2 linked regions of the Homo sapiens genome follow. The protein of the gene in region 1 interacts with the protein of each later gene in a pairwise test. Each region holds a gene or a part of one and is shown on either strand. Other genes may lie near its edges.

Region 1 (4,055 bases):
ATGTTATTTACAAATGATGTAAGGTTACATAAACTGTAGGTATAGTGTGATTCAATTTTATAAAACAAATCCCATCGATATCTTCTACAATACATCAAAATGTTAGCAATGATTATTTCTGGCTGGTGGCATTATGAGGACCTCTATTTTCTTCTTTATAATTCATTTTCTGAATTCTTTTCAATAGCATCTAGTATTTTTCTACTTAGAAAAAACTAGAAAGCTTTTTTGCGTTGGGAGAGTAAAGCCAGTCACTGCGCTCTACTACTCCACAGCATGTTTTTTTGTTTGTTTGTTTTGGTTTGGTTTTATTTCTGTTGTTGTTTGGGTTTTTGTTTGTTTGCTTTGCTTTTTTGAGATGGAGTCTCACTCTGTCACCCAGGCTGGAGTGCAGTGGTATGATCTCGGCTCATTGCAACCTCCGCCTCCTGGGTCCAAGTGATTCTCCTGCCTCAGCTTCCCGTGTAGCTGGGACTACAGGTGCGCACCACCACATCCAGCTAATTTTTGTATTTTTAGTAGAGACAAGGTTTAACCGCGTTGGCCAGGCTGTTTTCGAACTCCTGACCTCAGGTGATCCACCCGCCTCGGCCTCCCAAAGTGCTGGGATTACAGGCGTGAGCCACTGCACACGGCCTTCACAGCACTTTTGAGAGGCTTAAATGACATAGTGCATGGCACTGCCATGTGTGGTAAAAAGGAGAGCCCTGTCCTTATGCTGGCCTACTCAGTTCCACCTTGTAGGACCTGCTCTTTGAACTCAGAGTCTGAACCTACAGTACCCATGTTTGCCCTTGAGCCTTGGGACCAACCTTAGGGGTGGGGTAGGGCTGAGGGCCTGCCAGAGAATCAAGCTGAGTAGAAAAGTCTATGGAGCTGCAGGCCATGCAGGGCTGCTTGGGCACTGGCTCACCAGGGCTGTGTTTATGCAGCTTACTCCCTGCTGGGCTTCAGGGCTGCTAGCCAGGGACACCTAATTGGTGGGACAGAGCCCCCTCCTCTCACCACCCTCAAAGCTGGAATGTTCTGAATTCCTTCTTGGGCCAAATCCCCCTCCCCACAAGGCCTCTCCTGGGTTCACAGAGGTCACCACACAAAAGCCCAGCTGGAGTGGAGTTTTTGACAGAAAAAAAAAAACACACACAGAAAACCCACCAAACCTTTTTTTTTTTTTTTCTAAAGTGCCTCAATCTTTCCCAGCCTCCAGGGGTTTAATTCTGATCTGTAATAAGTCTCTGACCCACGGCTCAGATTTGCAGATGGATTTTGCAAAGCTGTGGTTAACGATTAGAAATCCTTTATCACCTCAGCCCGTGGCCCCTTGTACTTCGCTCCCCTCCCTCAGGATCCCTTTCTCCCTCTCCAGGGGCATCTCCCCCTCCAAGGCTCTGCAAAGAACTGCCCTGTAAGTATCTCCATCCTGATATAGTTGCTGCCTTTTAAATTCACCGAGGTGGGCACTCTTCCTTCCTAGTCACTATCCATTCACCCCATGGTGGAGCCAGGCTGGGCCACCTTGGGTTTCTGAGTGAAGGGTATGGGAGGGGAAACTCCGGTGGCATTTGGGTTGGTGGTATTTGTTCCCTCAAAGCTATCACAAAGGTTCAAATCTTTAAAACTTCAGGACCAGAGAAAGCACTCTCCAAATCAGATATTTTCTGGTTTGGGGGCTTAAAAGGACTGGGATAAAAATTGGAGGAAGGGAGCCACAGTTTACCCCTCTGCCTAAGTGTAGGGGACTGAGGAGTGGCAGAAGGGGCACTCCCTCACAGCCAGCTCCAGTGCCCTCCTTGGCATGAAGGCTCAGGGAGGTAGCAGAAGGTGGGTTCCTAAGTGAAGTCATAAAGTTTCCCCATGAGGTCCTTCAAGGACTCTCCCTCACTGGTCTGCAAGTCTGTCATTAGAAATTCCTTCTTTCGACTGAGGTATTACTCTCTTCAAGTGCCCTCTTTGAAAATGCAGTTGGAACCAAAACATTCACAGCACTTATGGCCGGGGAGATCGTAGGCGATTTTTGTTTTCTAAATTCTGCCTTTCTGTGTTTTCCAGTGTTCTAAAGTGAGAATGCTTTACTTTGATGATCAGGACAAAAATCAACTTCTTTTTCAAACAATAAGAAAATCTCTCAATCCAGTTGCAATTCTCTGAACTGCCATCAATCAATTGATGTAGAAGGAAAGATGAACTGCTCTAAGGACAAACTTTCAAGAAAGTAGGGCCTCAAGGGAATGGCTTTGCCACCTACTAGTGCCCTTGGCAGCTGGAAGTGAGTTTCAGAGAAGGGGGCAAGTGTCTCAGATTCTTATGAGGGGCAGTGAGATCAAGGGATATAGAAATGAGGCTGACTGACAGAAGAGGGCTGTGGTGGCCATCATCACCCCCAGAAGGCCACATCAGTTCCTTCCTTGAGCCTGGGAACCCCAAGTGCCCTGTCCCATGTAGTCTTAGGAGGGTACTGCCAAAGAAAGAGTACCATGCACAAGACTCTTGGAGCAAGAGATGGGGAGAATAGCAGGGAAAGTACCTAGGTGAGAAGGGGTTAAGTCAGGAGCTGCGGTCAATCTTGACCCTCCTAATCCTCTCCTGCAGCTCCAATCTCCCCACTAGGGAAGATTAAGTAAGGATCCTAAGTTAAACTTTCTTGCCCAGTCCTTGGGCCATGGAGTATGTTGGCCCTATGCCCAGAAGACAAATTCAGCTGACAAGGCCTAGAGTCCTCTGTACCTCCAACGCAGCCAGTACTTGACTTCTAGGAGGATCCCTCAAAGAGAGGCTTCTATTAAAACTGGCTGCTTCTAATAACAGCTCTTCAGTCTTCTATATTTGTCAAAGTGGCTTCCTGTCCCCATGCCTTTATTTGAGACTAAAAATCTTGGAGATGACAAACTAGGGCCTAGAGAAGCTATAGGACTTCCTCAGCAGGTTCTAGGCAGAACTGACACAACAAGAAGCTAGATCTTTTGATTCTAACACCAGGACCCTGTCTGCCCTCACCTCTACTGCTCATCAGACAAACAAAAACCTGGCTGAATCCAGCCTGTCTCACCACCCAACCATTCGCCATTTAGCTGGTCTTCCTAACTCTGGTGGAAAGCTGAACCCCCCCTCCATGGGGCCATTTCTATCACTTGAATAAGCTCCAATAACTTGTTCTTCCTCCTGCCTGGGCATGCTGCTATGCCAAGTCAGACTCTAGAGATTCCAAGCCTCAGTAATGGCATTTTCTTGACTCTGCCCTCTCCCTCACCCCAAAACACTTGCCTACTTACTACTACTTAGGACAGGCTCTGGGGAGAGGCTTTCCTCTTGGGGACACTGTTGATTCCCTTGGGAAACTCAAGCTTGACTCTTCAGCTGCCATCCCAGGAAGGCTGAAGCAGGAGCTGCTCCTCTGGGAAGCAGTAGGTCTTCCCCTTGAAAACCTCAAGGTATCTCACCAATTCTCACTGAAAGCTCAGATACAAATAGGAGGAAGAAAGGAAAAGTATTGAACCCAGCCTGGGTGAGGAGCAGGGAGGGCCCAAGGATGGTTTCAAGGCAAGGATGCATCCTCAAAGATGATTTGCAATTATCCAAGCAAATGGTGGATGGTAGAATAGCATGCTTACGGGCTTGGAGACAGAGAGAAAGGCAGTCAGAGAAATTCAAGTGCTTAGGTTTGGCTGGATCATATGTGTATGTATAGGAGCATAAAGCATGAGGTTGGAGGTTAATGGTGTGAGATGAGGCTGTGAAGAAAAGCCGGGGTGAAATAATGGAGGGCTTTCTTGGTTTCCTGGGCTAGCAAGTTTGAACTTCATCCTGAAATACTTAAGAGCTCTGAAGATTTTTTTTTTTTTTTTTTTTTGAGACAAAGTTTTGCTCTATCGCTCAGGCTGGAGTGCAGTGGCACAATCTCGGCTCACTGCAACCTCCACCTCCCGGTTCCAGCGATTCTCCTGCCTCAGCCTCCCTAGTAGCTGGGATTACAGGCACATGCCACCACGCCCAACTAATTTTTGTATTTTTCGTAGAGACGGGGTTTCACTATGTTGGCCAGGCTGGTCTCAAACTCC
Region 2 (3,500 bases), on another chromosome or scaffold:
AACCTGACCAAAAAGAGGGTGACACTGCTCATTTTGCTTGTCTGGGCCATCGCCATTTTTATGGGGGCGGTCCCCACACTGGGCTGGAATTGCCTCTGCAACATCTCTGCCTGCTCTTCCCTGGCCCCCATTTACAGCAGGAGTTACCTTGTTTTCTGGACAGTGTCCAACCTCATGGCCTTCCTCATCATGGTTGTGGTGTACCTGCGGATCTACGTGTACGTCAAGAGGAAAACCAACGTCTTGTCTCCGCATACAAGTGGGTCCATCAGCCGCCGGAGGACACCCATGAAGCTAATGAAGACGGTGATGACTGTCTTAGGTAGGTAAGAGGACCCAAGCAAGCCATCATTCCCATTCATTCAGCAAATCTTTACGGAGCATCTGTGGTGTACCAGGCACTTACTAGGCAGTAAGAATGCAGCAGTGAACAAGAACGGACATAAATCGCCACCCACCTGGAGCTTACACTCTAATAAGGAAAGATAAAATAAGTATTCTAATGGGGGTAAACAAATTAAGTGAAATAAGATGAGTCTCCTGTGGAAAAATCAATCAGGGAAGGAAGGAAAAATAAAGCAGGGAAGGGAGCTGGAGAGTGCTAAGCTAAGCAGGTATCGTTTGCACTTTAAAAAAGTGTTGTGAGGGATGCCTGGAAGATGACTTTTGAGCAGAGGTGTGAAGGCAGTCAGGGAGTGAACCATACTGGTGTCTGGGGAAGGGTGTTCCAGGTGGGAGAAGCGGTAAGCACAGGAGCCCTGACCAGCCAGGAAGCCACTATGGCTGCATGGATCGAGCAGAGGGAGTAGGAGAAGATGAGGTCAGGGAGCTGGTGGGGTAGGGGATGGGCTACTCAGATAATGTAGGGTCATGTGGTTATAAGGACTTCAGCTTTTCATTTTTTTTTCTTTTTTCTTTTTTTGCCGGAGCCTCACTCACTCTGTCACCCAGGCTGGAGTGCAGTGGTGCCGTCTCAGCTCACTGCAACCTCCACCTCCCGAGTTCAAGCAATTCTCCTGCCTCAGCGTCCCAAGTTGCTGGGATTACAGGCAGCGCACCACCATGCCCAGCTAATTTTTGTATTTTTAGTAGAGATGGGGTTTCTCCATGTTGGCTGGGCCAGTCTCAAGTGAGATGAGAAGCTATGGGAAGGTTTTAAACAGGGGAGTGACATGATCTGACTTATATTTTAATGGTATCTCTCTGGCTACTGTTTTAAGACACTGCTGTAATGAGGCAATAGCAAAAACAGGAAAATTGTTTAACCTATTTATGCCTAGTGTTCCATTATTGGAATGCTAAGCTTGTGGGAGTTATTTATATCCTACTGCTCAAGGTCATTGACAAGTTCTGATTTTTCACAAAAGAAATTTGCAACCCCTGGCATAAATGGGTTAATAGAGTATTTCAGTACTCGGGAGAGATCACCATGGCCAGATGGTAGTTGAAGGTGATGGTCAGATTCTGTTTTTTTGTTTTTTGTTTTTTTTTTTTTGAGACAGGACCTGGCTCTGTCATCTAGGCTATAGTGCAGTGGTGCAATCTCAGCTCACTGCAACCTCCACCTCCTGGCCTCAAGTGATCCTTCTACCTCAGCCTCCCAAGTAGCTGGGATTACAGGCCTGTGCCACCAGGCCCGGCTAATTTTTGTAATTTTTTTAGAGACAGGGTTTCACCATGTTGCCCAGGCTACTCTCGAACTCCTGAGCTGAAGCCATCCGCCTGCCTCGGCCTCCCACAGTACTGGGATTACAGGTGTGAGCCACTGCACCTGGCCAGATTCCAGATATTTTTTAAAGGATTTACTGATGGGTAAGGTAGAGGGGAAGATGAGAGGTGGAGGAGAAGGTGGGGAATGTCATTAACCAAGATGAGGAAGACTGAAGAGGAGGAGGTTTTGGGGGAAGATTTGGTTTTGGACAAGCTAAATTTAGGAACCTATTAGACATCCAAGGGGTGTGGCAATTTTATTGAGTGGACAGTTGGATGTTTGACTCAGGAATTCAAGATTTAGGTCTGGGCTGGAGATGTACATTTGAGAGTCCTGGGGGGAAACTGGTATTTTAAATCACAGGACTGCGTGAGCTCACCATGAACGTGAATGTGGATATGAAGGAGAGGAGGACCAAGGATGGAGCCGTAGGGCAGGCCCTCCAGTGTAAGGAGGTCAGGAGGTAAGGGGCAGCCAGCAAAGGAGCCCTAGAAGGGATGGAAAACCCAGGAGACTCTGGGGAACTAGAAGAAAGAGAAGAAGGCAATCGAGGAGAGGAAGCATTAGCAGTGTTGGTACCCCTGAGAGGTGGTGTAAGACCAGGTGTTGCTGGCCTTACCAAAGTGGTGGACTTGTGCTGATCTTGAGATCATCACATTTGGTATAGCCAAGAGCCTGATTGGAGTAAAATTGAGAAAGAAAGGAAGAGCCTGGGCAACATGGTGAAACCCCATCTCTATGAAAAATACTAAAATTAGCTGGCCATGGTGGTGCATACCTGTAGTCCCAGCTACTTGGGTGGCTGAGGTGGGAGAACCGCTTGAACCCGGGAGGTTGAGGTTGAGTGAGCTGTGATCACACCACGGCACTCCAGCCTGAACAACAGAGTAAGAGCCTGTCTTAAGAAACAAAAACAAAACCAAAAAAAAAAAAAGGGAGGAGAGAAAGGTTGTGAGCCCTGTACCAAGAAGACATGTGGTTTCGTAGAATTTTCCCTTTGTTTTATTTTCTCTGAAGTAGGTGGCCTATTGCCCCACCTCCCCAGTTCTAATTCTGGGTTACAGGTAGAATTTGTAATGTGTGGGCAGACAAGAACTTTTGTGGTTTCACAGAACTTGTCTTGTAAGGCAGAGAGGCCGTTTCTCACTGTGTGTGTGGCTGCAGCAATGGGGACTGTTGCTGAGAGAGATTCAGGAGTACATTTCTGTCTACTCCTTATGAGAAGGAATTATAAAATGAATTATCAGGTAGCAGTTCATAGTGGAGGATACAGTATGTGTGGTGTGGTATAGAAACCCTCACAATGCCTCTAGGTCCTGAAACTGCTAGTAAGATTTGGGGGTCAGCAGACACAGAGTGTGATTGTTAAAATAATTTCAAACTGAGGATTTATTTAACAAATATTTATATAGTGCTTAATATGTGCCAAGCATTGTCCTAAGTGTTTTTACAAACATTAACTTATTTAATTCTCATGGAAACCCTGTGAGATAGGTGCTACTATTATACCCATTTACCAGATGGAGAAACTGAGAGTTTAAGCAGTGTGTCCAGTCACTCAGCTGTTAACCAAGACTCACTGCGCAGCTGGCCTCTAGAGTTCACATATTTACCACCATACTCTGTGGCTACTTGTGATTTATCTGGACTTTTTACGCTCATCTTTTTGTCCTGTCTTCTGCTTTGACACCGTTGACACATTGATAAGAAAATGGACAAGAACAAGAAAAAGAGGGTTCACATTAATCGGCATTTCCCCTCGAGCTGGAGAAGATATTGATGTTTTTGA

The links. The genes of interacting proteins can lie anywhere in the genome.
Region 2: the proteins of CLDN2 (region 1) and LPAR3 interact in binary tests that used the Homo sapiens proteins (3 or more experiments, as listed by UniProt).

Annotation. Positions count from the first base shown.
Region 1 is NC_000023.11:106,919,147-106,923,201, forward strand, and holds the start of CLDN2 (claudin-2), read left to right. Parts: upstream 1-1,255; 5' UTR 1,256-1,405; intron 1,406-4,055. UniProt on the Homo sapiens protein: Forms paracellular channels: polymerizes in tight junction strands with cation- and water-selective channels through the strands, conveying epithelial permeability in a process known as paracellular tight junction permeability.
Region 2 is NC_000001.11:84,862,207-84,865,706, reverse strand, and holds part of LPAR3 (lysophosphatidic acid receptor 3), read left to right. Parts: coding exon 1-322; intron 323-3,500. UniProt on the Homo sapiens protein: Receptor for lysophosphatidic acid (LPA), a mediator of diverse cellular activities. May play a role in the development of ovarian cancer. Seems to be coupled to the G(i)/G(o) and G(q) families of heteromeric G proteins.